Homo sapiens: one gene and its partners. The protein of the gene in region 3 interacts with the protein of the main gene of each other region in a pairwise test. Each region holds a gene or a part of one and is shown on either strand. Other genes may lie near its edges. The genes, in order: NPHP1, DZIP3 and ARHGAP32.

Region 1 (3,753 bases), on a different chromosome or scaffold from region 3:
CATGATACATTCAATACAATGGATACCACTCAGTAATGAGAAGGAATGAACTAATGGTACACACAACAATATGGAAGTATCTCAAAAACATGCTTTGTGGAAAGGTTACACAAGAGTGCTTACTGTATGAGTCCATTTATATAAAATTTCAAGAACAGGCAAAACTAATTTATGTTGGAAAAATATCAAAACAGGTTTGTCTGTGGAGGAATAAGGAGGGGATTTACTGGCAAGGGCATGAGGGAACTTACTAGGGTGATGGTAGTTTTCTACATCTTGATAAGAATTTTGGTTACACAGATGTATGCATTTGTCGAAACTCAGCAAATGTATGCCTCGTATTTGTGCATTTCACTATATACATATTTTACATCAACTATTGAACTTTAGTTAGTGACATCCATAGTCCATTATTTAGGGAGAAATGTATTGATAACTGCAACTTACTTTGAAAGGCATAAGGTGGGTTGACGGATAGATCAAATAAGTATAGTATAATGTTAATGTTTTTTCTAGGTAGCGGGTATATGGGTTTTCACTGTAAAATTTTTAAAACTTTGTTGTATGTTTAAAAGTGTTCATTATAAAATATTGGATAAAAAAAGAAGTTTTCTTTCCTAAGGCGATATGGTATTTAATAATGTGATATTTTAAATGGTCTCCATAGGTTGATAGTTTGCTTTCTGAGAGCCAACTGAAAGAAGCTCTAGAACCCAATAAAAGACAACATATTTATCAAAGGTAAAGTATGCTAAATTATATAAGCTTTACAGGAACCGCACTTACATTTCAATGCATAGTATTTAAGGCATAGAGATTGGTCCTTTGGAATCAAATGGAAGAATCACATAGTGTTGTAAGTTGAATGTAGAAGAAACCAACCTAAACCTGATGGTTGCGGACTTGCTGTTGTGACAGCAACTATAAAAACTGCTTAATGTAAACATAGGTGACATGGGCAGGATTACCCTAAATCCTTAGCCTATGTAGCCCAGATCCTGTGACCTGGTCAGAAACCTCTGTCTATAAGCAATTAGTACTTCATTGGGATGTCAACTTTAACTCCCATGAGAAGACAACACTGTTTTCTAGGTGGGTGTTTTTTGTTTTGTATTTGTTTTTACTTAAAAAAAAATCCTTGGGAGAGTTTAAATAGACGTGATGAACTACATCAAATTTAGACTATTAATTCATAACATTTGTATTAAGTTTAGGACATCATTAAGATAATCTTTGTTTTTGAGATATTTAAGGATTTTATTACATTCCAAAGAACATGAGATTCATTCTATTAATTTAAGTGAATTGTAATTGTTTGGAGAAGTTTTACTTAAGTCAGGCATTCAGAGTGCTTAAAGGCAAAACAAATGAATTTTGAAATGTCAAATGAATTTAATTTATAATAGTAGGATTGATTAAGGGATTTAGTTCAAGCTGAATTAACAGTAATGAAAGAAAAGCAAAGGTTATTGTTCTTGCTTTACTAGATTTAAAAACAGAGTAAGATTTATAGACTGAATTTGAAGGCCAAGGGAAAACTACGTTTTTAAATTTTATGTTAGTAAACTAAAAATCATAATTATTATTATTTTATTTTTTGAGACTAAATCTCACTCTGTCACCCAGGCTGGAGTGCAGTGGCGCAATCTCGGCTCATTGCAACCTGCACCTCCCAGGTTCAAGCGATTCTTCTGCCTCAGGCTCTTGAGTAGTTGGGATTACAGTCGTGCCCCACCACACCTGGCTGGATTTTGTATTTTGAGTAGAGATGGGTTTCATCACGTTGGCCAGGCTGGTTTCGAACTCCTGACCTCAAGGGATCCCCCAGCCTTGGCCTCCCAAAGTGCTGGGATTATAGGTGTGAGCCACTGTGCCCAGCCTAATAATTGTTATGTTTTATTTTTTTTGAGATAGAGTCTCTCTCTGTCGCCCAGGCTGGAGTGCAGTGGCATGATCTCGGCTCACTGCAAGCTCCACCTCCCAGGTTCAAGCGATTCTCCTGCCTCAGCCTCCCGAGTAGCTGGGATTACAGGTGCCCGCCACCATGCCTGGCTAATTTTTTGTATTTTTAGTAGAGATGGGGTTTCACCGTGCTAGCCAGGATGGTCTCAATCTCCTGACCTCATGCCCCCTGCTTTGGCCTCCCAAAGTGCTGGGATTATAGGCGTGAGCCACCGCGCCCGGCCCCTAATAATTATTTTTAAGCCCAAGTAACCATAGTCTTCTCTGTGCATGAAAAGAAGATTGTTACTGTCATTTAAAAACTCACTTTGACATTTGCATATCTGAAAATGTCATTTAGGTATCATTTTTATCTGCTCAGTGCTCTGAGTCTTTTCAGTTTGAAAACTCATGTCTCATGAGCTCTGGGAGATTTTATTTTACAAAAAGATTATTTCGTTAATTCCATTTGTCTGTTTCTTCCTGAAACACCTTTGAGTCAGGTATTGGATATCCTGGACTGATCCTCTATATCCCATAACTTCCTGTTAATAGTTTCTGTTTCTTTGTTTGTATGGGAGATGTTTTTTTGGGGGGATGTGGGGGGTCTCACTCTGTCGTTCAGGCTGTAATGAAGTGGCACAATCATGGCTCACTGCACCTTCTGCCTCCCAGGCTCAAGGGATGCCCCCCTCCCCCGCCACGAGCTACCATGCTAGCAATTCTCTTGACTTTAACACTTTTCTTTATTACCTATTTCAACAGCCATATTGTTTTATTTCAGCAGTCATATTGGTTTTTTTTTTTTTAAGATGGAGTCTCACTCTGTCATGATCTTGGCTCACTGCAACCTCTGCCTCCTGGGTTCAAGCGATTCTCCTGCCTTAGCCTTCTGAGTAGCTGGGATTACAGGCTCACGCCATCACACTCGGCTAATTTTTTGTATTTTTAGTAGAGACGGAGTTTCACCATGTTGGCCAGGCTGCTCTCAAACTCCCGACTTCAGGTGATCCACCCATCATGGCCTCCCAAAGTGCTGGGATTACGTGAGCCACCGTGCCTGGCCATCATCAGTCATGTTGTTAATTTACAAGTGTTTTCTCTTGTTCTCGAATTGTTCTTTTTTCATAGCATCATGTTCCTGTTTTCATATTGATTGCCTTCTTACTACTTCCATGACTAGGAGGCTTTTTTTTTCTCCTTAAGTTCTCTTCTGTTCTCTGAATTGTCTTTGCTTTCTCTGGGCTCAGATTCCTTTTAATTAGTTAATTAATTAATTTATATTTGGTTATTCTTAAATTTTATCTTCACGTTGCCGGTTTTCTTTATTAGGTCTGGCTTATCTATTTTTATTGAACAATGAGGGACTAGGTTGATTATTCCAGAGAGCTCTCATGGGCTTTTCTACTGTTAGATAGAGAGGGGTCCTTCCTGCTAGTACCATCCCCTGAATAAGAATGAAATTTTGTATGTTGATAGGGCTTATCAGAGGCTCGGAAGTAGCTTTTAGTCTGAGGATCCCCCAGTGCCAGAATAGGGCCGGCTCTAACCCTGGTGTATGGGAAACTTCTTTAGCAGTCATGATTCTCTTCAGGTCGTTTGTTAATTGTTTTTGTTTGTTTTTTTGTTTTTAGGGAAGAATCCCCTGGTAAGGAGGGAGAGCAGAGAGGGGAAAAGGGAGCTAACTGGCTCAGGTTTTCTGTAAATAGACTTTTAAAAGAAAGAACCCCAACTAAATCTAAACGTAATCAGTATCATTAATCTTCCCTTGACTAATATAAAGACCTTAGATTGCTTTAACATTGATTTCCC
Region 2 (3,753 bases), on a different chromosome or scaffold from region 3:
ATCCACAGCGTAAGGCTTTAAAGATCCACCAGAAGACATGTTGGTTGGTAACCCTGATGCATAGAGTGACAACTGCCTCTGCTAGGCTACATCTGAGAGACTGACATAAATCTTTTTGCTCCTTAGTGCATTAGACCATGGTTGATGCAACAGGGGACATGTCCAACGTGCAGACTCCACGTTTTGCTACCAGAAGAATTCCCTGGTCACCCCAGCCGGCAGTTGCCCAAGATCTGATACAAGGTCGGGGTGTCTATGCAAAGGAAGCTCAGTTTTCTTTTATTATGAGCTGCTTGTTTGAGTGGTGTAAAACTATGTGCTCTTCAATATAGTGCTAAAGAAGCCAGCTAATTTTATCAAAGCAGCAGCCAAAGAAGTCAGGACAAATCTTCAGGACTTGTGAAATGAACTGAAAGAGCTTGAAGCAGATGGAATTTTAATAGTTACACTATATATGCTCTTAGTAGGTTTTTTTCTTGTAGTGGAAACATAACTGTTAGCATATTTCTTAGGATGTTTTTTCTTGTCTTTTTAAATTCTTATTTCACTCATCCTTTACTCTCCCCTCAAGTATTCTACACTTTAATTTCCTGAAATAAATTTAAGGAAAAGGGAAATAGTAAAGAAGTAGGAATGGGTGCAGCACACCAGCATGGCACATGAATACACATGTAACTAACCTGCACATTGTGCACATGTACCCTAAAACTTAAAGTATAATAATAATAAAAGAAAAAAAAAAGAAAGTAAAAAAAAAAAAAGAAGTGGATATTCACGGAGAGCTATGAGGGGATAAAAGGGTATGATCTAATGGTAAGAAACTGGAAGAAACATAGCAAGTCATTTGTTCAGATTCTTCTCTGTGTCCCTGTGTCTCCAGAGATAAGGATGTCCTTTTCCTCCAGGTATACAGTGGGTACCTCTAGAATGAGGGTCTTATGACCTGCTTCCAGGGAAGGTCAGAGAATCCTTCCTAGGTTTTATGACTTGTTTCTGGGAAGAAGTGCAGGAGGAAAGTGAGTGAGACTTCCCTGCTTCTGCTGTTTTCTCAAACATCAAGATGCCATATTTTGGAGTAGCATGTCTTAAATCTCATCACCCGTCTCAGGTGCAGTTTCATGGCCATGAAGAAGACAGAAAGACCACTCATACCTGCATAAGTATTATCACAAACTTTCTTATCTTCTGTTTGTTCTCCTGAAAACCCATTTGTCTTTCCTAAACGAACCAATTTGTCCTTCCCATAGATGTCTTTCTCCCCCATTCCTTTCCCCTACTAAGTTAGGTATATAAGCCCCAAATTCTAACCACACTTTTCAGTTACTCTTCACGGAACACTCCCACATGTGCGAACATTGTCCGCATAAATAAGCTCTTTTCTCTTACTAATGTCTTTTTTTCAGTTTAATTTGCAGGCTCCTATTGAAATAACAAAAGTTGGTAGAGGAAAAAGTTTTTTCTCCCCTACAAAGGCCAAGAACATTTTGGCTTTATATTTATATTTATATTATAATGTGAATTGATTATAATTATAATGTGAATTGATAGAAATATATATATTTTTTTTCTGCCCCTGCTTGGCACATGACAGAACATGGGCATAGACAGACTGGCTATTGGTAATCCAGTCCTGGGAGATGATCAGGAGGCAGTACTCAATCCTACTTTCTTCTCTACAGCTTCCCATGGGCTAAAGAATTTACATGTCTGCCCACAGCAAATGTACTCAGGCTTCTACACTAACATAAGCCCACGGAAATGAAACAGAAAGGGACAGTTCATATGTTTCTGAATAGATCCAGTTGAATAGTCTCATTCAATTTGAGACTGTTGAACAACTGTTGTTGTTCTACATACATTTAAAGTCAGGGCACATGCGTCACTGCTTATTTTTCTTACTTGACATATTCCCTGCATTTCCATGTCTGCCTGTCCTTTAGATAAACAGTAAAAGTTTCCCATGTGCCAGTATTTCTCAAATGGTTTACATCAGAATCACCTGGAGGACTTTTAAGCTAGATTGTTTGGTCCCATCCCAGGGATTCTGAATCAACAGGTTTGCGATGGGTCCAGATAGTTTACTTTTCCAAGTTTACTAACAAGTTTGCCAAGTTCCCCCAGTTTATTACCATTAGACCATACCTTTTTGTCCAATCATTTAAAACAAATTTTTATATAATAAGTTTTATTTGTATGTAATAAATTTTATTATATAAAAATAAGTTTTAATATATATTATATAAAAAGTTTTAATAAATACCTAATATATTATTTAATATGATAAAACTTATATTAAATGAAATTTTATGCTGTTCTCTTGTCAATCTGTCTTTTGTTATCTTGCTGGTGTGCCTGTCATGTGAGGGACTGCAATCTGATATGCCTGTTTTCCACAGTCAAAGCAATTACAAGAGAATTGTTACAATTACCCAGTTATGTCAAGAGATTTTTTTTTAATTCACTAAGGTAGAGATAAGGAGAATGTATTAAAATAGGATATTTTAATTATAAATGCATGACTGGGGAGGGGGTATTGTTTTTGAATAAAATATGAGGTTATTTGCCATGACAAAAAAAAAAAGAAGTAGGAAAATCCCATGGAAATTTATGTTCCTTCTAACTTTTAAAACTACCTAAAAAATATAATTGATTTAAATTATATCTCAATATTCCCCATTCTTTTATATCCCCTTAAATAGGTACCCATGAAGAGATTATGAACTACTTGAAGGTGGAGACTGTACGGTGGTGTGTTGGAGCTGGCTTGTAATGTCTTATGAGTGACAATCGTTAGTTTGAGGAATTTTGTGAGACAGTTGTCAAATTGTTGCTAGCTTGAAATCTGCGGCAATTGGAGTATTTACACCATAGAAATGCTATAAGTGAAGACCTACCTTTCCCTTAAGAGCTAGTTGTTAAACCTTTACCAGCATACCACTGGACCTTGTCTAAAATTTCTTTGTGTTCCCAGTGTCTTGCCCAGTAGATACAAGATAAATATTGCCAGAATCAGATATCAGGAAGTAGTAAGAAAAGGAGTTAATATGCAAACTAAATCACTCGCTCAATTGAATAATTGAGATCTTCTGTTCATTTGTTCCTTGGACCTTAATCATTTGCATTTTGGAGAAAATTTTTTCTGCTTTAAAAGTCTGTAATTTCAGTTTTTGTGTCGGGGAGAGGGAAAAACTATTTGTCTGTAGTTGCTTTTTGTGACAAAGTGAATACCCACTGGGCTAAGTTTCATATCTAAAGCTTGTCACTAAGAATTTTCATTTTTAGGGGTCAAAAACCTATTTTGAAAATAGTGTTGTGTGAATGCTGTAAGTGTTGTACATGTCTCTGGTTTCAGAATTAAAAGAATTCAGAGTTACCTTGTGAGATAAATGTTCTTTGCTTCATATTCACAGTTTCACCTCCATTTAAATTTATGGGGAAGAATAAATGTTTCCTGACTCAGAAACAATTTTGCCTCCATATTTCAGTGCAAATATATTTTGAAGTTACTTTTAAATATTTATTTAAAACCTCTGTTTCTGTAACTGTATGTTAAACGTATTCTTCTGTAATGAGAATAGACTGGAACATGTGAGGGAAAAATATTTAAAAAAAGATGGCAGTCATCTAGACATGTAAAATGCCAAGAATGTCTTAGAATTGCACAATTTAGAATTTATAGAGCCTTTAATCACCTTGTCTAGCACCTTGTATTAGTCCATTTTCATGCTGCTGATAAAGACATACCTGAGATTG
Region 3 (3,753 bases):
AGATATCAGTGAGATGAAATATACTATTACCAAAGGTATGTCACTTTTCAGCAGGGTGTGTTGTTATCTTTGAGTCAGACACAACAATTACTTTTAAGCCCTGTGGCTGGTTTCCATGAGATAGTTCCCATTTGAGGTTGGAGTCTGCCATTACCTTGATGCTGGCTTTTCCCCAGGAAAGGAGTAGCTCCTAGATGACTATAGCTTAACTGTACCTGCTCCCTTTTCTTCCTAAAGTGTCTCGGTAGTTTATTCCAGTAACACAAAGAGATCAGGATCAAATGAGACAAAGTGGGCTTTACGGTTGTGGGTTGCTTTTTCTTATTTTTTTCCAACTCCATCACTGACTCATTGTGACTTTGGGCAAGTCATTTACCTACCCTCTGCCAATTATTCACAGTTACACAATGAAAATACTTCATTCTCAAAACATTCGTAAGACTGTCTGCCTTGCAGACTTTTTGGAAGTATAAGAGATTATAGTGCCTTGGGATTTTTTGTTACTTTCCTAGCATTCACCAGCAGTTTGTCCCATAGTCAGGTGCCTGTTTCAATGAGAGAATGTAGTATGCAGAATGCTAAGGTTTCTTCCTGAATTTCCTCATATTTTAAGAAAGTGCCACAGGTTGTTTTTCTTCTATATGGTCACCTTGAACTATTAATAGGACTTAAGATTTTAGACCTTAGTGGAGGATGCTGTGTTTACTGCTTCTCAAGGATAGCATGTTTTCAGTATGAGGATTATCTTTGGCCAGACTAAGGTGGAATCAAAGGTAGGAGAGAGGCAGTAGCTTCTGATTTGAATATTGCCTTTCCCTATGTTTGAAGCCCTAAAACTGCTAACTGTGTACAACTGTGAATTTCAAAAGTCTCCCCAGATGATAGAATTAACTCTTAATTTAACAAGATGTCCTTTGTGTTGAGACTGAGCTAGACTAATAGACCGGGTATGTATTTTTAAGCTCTACAGCATTACTTGACTAAACCTCTCTTTTGGTTTGTATATTAAAATTATGCCATAGGCAACCTCATCTCGCATTTAAAACCTCTCATAAATTAGAAAACTTTGAATGGTTCTCCAAAGATAATACTGGGTGTTGTACAAAATAGCAGCACAAGCCTTCTTTTCCTAGAAATGGGTACAGATTCATTGCAACCACATGGCTTGGGAAAGTTCAAGCTGCTACCCAACCAGCCTTAATTTGTGAGTTACAAATTTAATAGTACTTGATTCATAGAGGGAACAAAAAATAGACCCATAGTATTATCATCTTTCAATAGGTTCAAGGAGTAGTTCCAGTTCCAGAGAGGCCACCTGAACCTCGAGCCATGGATGACCCTGCGTCTGCCTTCATCAGTGACAGTGGTGCTGCTGCTGCTCAGTGTCCCATGGCTACAGCTGTCCAGCCAGGCCTGCCTGAGAAAGTGCGGGACGGTGCCCGGGTCCCGCTGCTGCACCTGCGCGCCGAGTCTGTCCCTGCGCATCCCTGTGGCTTTCCTGCACCACTGCCCCCCACCAGGATGATGGAGAGTAAGATGATTGCTGCCATACACTCCAGCAGTGCAGATGCCACCAGCAGTTCAAATTATCATTCCTTTGTCACTGCTTCATCCACCTCTGTGGACGATGCATTGCCTTTACCACTTCCTGTCCCACAACCTAAGCATGCTTCTCAGAAAACAGTTTACTCCTCCTTTGCTAGGCCCGATGTCACCACTGAACCCTTTGGTCCAGATAACTGTTTGCATTTCAATATGACTCCAAACTGCCAGTACCGTCCCCAGAGTGTACCTCCCCATCACAATAAATTGGAGCAGCACCAAGTGTATGGTGCCAGGTCAGAGCCACCAGCCTCCATGGGTCTTCGTTATAACACATATGTGGCCCCAGGAAGAAACGCATCTGGACACCACTCCAAGCCATGCAGCCGGGTCGAGTATGTGTCTTCTTTGAGCTCCTCTGTCAGGAATACCTGTTACCCCGAAGACATTCCACCGTACCCTACCATCCGGAGAGTGCAGTCTCTCCATGCTCCGCCGTCTTCCATGATTCGCTCTGTTCCCATTTCACGGACAGAAGTTCCCCCAGATGATGAGCCAGCCTACTGCCCAAGACCTCTGTACCAATATAAGCCATATCAGTCCTCCCAGGCCCGCTCAGATTATCATGTCACTCAGCTTCAGCCTTACTTTGAGAATGGCCGGGTCCACTACAGGTATAGCCCATATTCCAGTTCTTCTAGTTCCTATTACAGTCCAGATGGGGCCCTGTGTGATGTGGATGCCTATGGCACAGTCCAGTTGAGACCCCTTCACCGCCTTCCCAATCGAGACTTTGCTTTCTACAATCCTAGGCTGCAAGGAAAGAGCTTGTACAGTTATGCTGGTTTGGCTCCACGTCCCCGGGCCAACGTGACTGGCTATTTCTCTCCCAACGACCATAATGTAGTCAGCATGCCTCCGGCTGCTGATGTGAAGCACACCTACACCTCATGGGATCTTGAGGACATGGAAAAATACCGCATGCAGTCCATCCGGAGAGAGAGCCGTGCTCGGCAGAAGGTGAAAGGGCCTGTCATGTCCCAATATGATAACATGACCCCGGCGGTGCAGGACGACTTGGGTGGGATCTATGTCATCCATCTGCGTAGTAAATCAGATCCTGGGAAAACTGGACTTCTCTCAGTGGCAGAAGGAAAGGAGAGCCGCCATGCAGCCAAGGCCATCAGTCCCGAGGGAGAGGACCGCTTCTATAGGAGGCATCCCGAGGCAGAGATGGACAGAGCCCACCATCACGGAGGCCATGGTAGCACGCAGCCGGAGAAGCCATCCCTGCCTCAGAAGCAGAGCAGCCTGAGGAGCAGGAAGCTTCCTGACATGGGCTGCAGTCTTCCTGAGCACAGGGCACACCAAGAAGCAAGCCATAGGCAGTTCTGTGAGTCAAAGAATGGGCCCCCTTATCCCCAGGGAGCTGGCCAGTTAGATTATGGGTCCAAAGGGATTCCAGACACTTCTGAGCCAGTCAGCTACCACAACTCTGGAGTAAAATATGCTGCATCCGGGCAAGAATCTTTAAGACTGAACCACAAAGAGGTAAGGCTCTCCAAAGAGATGGAGCGACCCTGGGTTAGGCAGCCTTCTGCCCCAGAGAAACACTCCAGAGACTGCTACAAGGAGGAAGAACACCTCACTCAGTCAATCGTCCCACCCCCTAAACCAGAGAGGAGTCATAGCCTCAAACTCCATCATACCCAGAACGTGGAGAGGGACCCCAGTGTGCTGTACCAGTACCAACCACACGGCAAGCGCCAGAGCAGTGTGACTGTTGTGTCCCAGTATGATAACCTGGAAGATTACCACTCCCTGCCTCAGCACCAGCGAGGAGTCTTTGGAGGGGGCGGCATGGGGACGTATGTGCCCCCTGGCTTTCCCCATCCACAGAGCAGGACCTATGCTACAGCGTTGGGTCAAGGGGCCTTCCTGCCCGCAGAGTTGTCCTTGCAGCATCCTGAAACACAGATCCATGCAGAATGAGCCCTGCGAGCAATAGAGTTGAAGCAGCCTCTGCTGGACAGTGGACTGTTCTATTTTTTTCAATAACCAAAAAGATTAAACAAAAAATACTATAAAACCCCTGACCACATTTAAAAAATGATAATAAAAGTAAACAAATCAGCATCTTTTTCCCCTTCCCTGCTTCATTACCCCCTCTTCCATCTATAGACTTTGTCATTTTTGTCTTTAGAAAAGATC

Evidence for each region.
Region 1: the proteins of ARHGAP32 (region 3) and NPHP1 interact in a two-hybrid assay, tested with the Homo sapiens proteins (one study listed by BioGRID).
Region 2: the proteins of ARHGAP32 (region 3) and DZIP3 interact in binary tests that used the Homo sapiens proteins (3 or more experiments, as listed by UniProt).

What each region holds. Positions count from the first base shown.
Region 1 is NC_000002.12:110,198,409-110,202,161, reverse strand, and holds part of NPHP1 (nephrocystin-1), read left to right. Parts: intron 1-667; coding exon 668-741; intron 742-3,753. UniProt on the Homo sapiens protein: Together with BCAR1 it may play a role in the control of epithelial cell polarity. Involved in the organization of apical junctions in kidney cells together with NPHP4 and RPGRIP1L/NPHP8. Does not seem to be strictly required for ciliogenesis.
Region 2 is NC_000003.12:108,690,661-108,694,413, forward strand, and holds part of DZIP3 (E3 ubiquitin-protein ligase DZIP3), read left to right. Parts: intron 1-126; coding exon 127-237; 3' UTR 238-243; intron 244-2,699; 3' UTR 2,700-3,753. UniProt on the Homo sapiens protein: E3 Ubiquitin ligase proteins mediate ubiquitination and subsequent proteasomal degradation of target proteins.
Region 3 is NC_000011.10:128,968,688-128,972,440, reverse strand, and holds part of ARHGAP32 (rho GTPase-activating protein 32), read left to right. Parts: intron 1-1,281; coding exon 1,282-3,534; 3' UTR 3,535-3,753. UniProt on the Homo sapiens protein: GTPase-activating protein (GAP) promoting GTP hydrolysis on RHOA, CDC42 and RAC1 small GTPases. May be involved in the differentiation of neuronal cells during the formation of neurite extensions.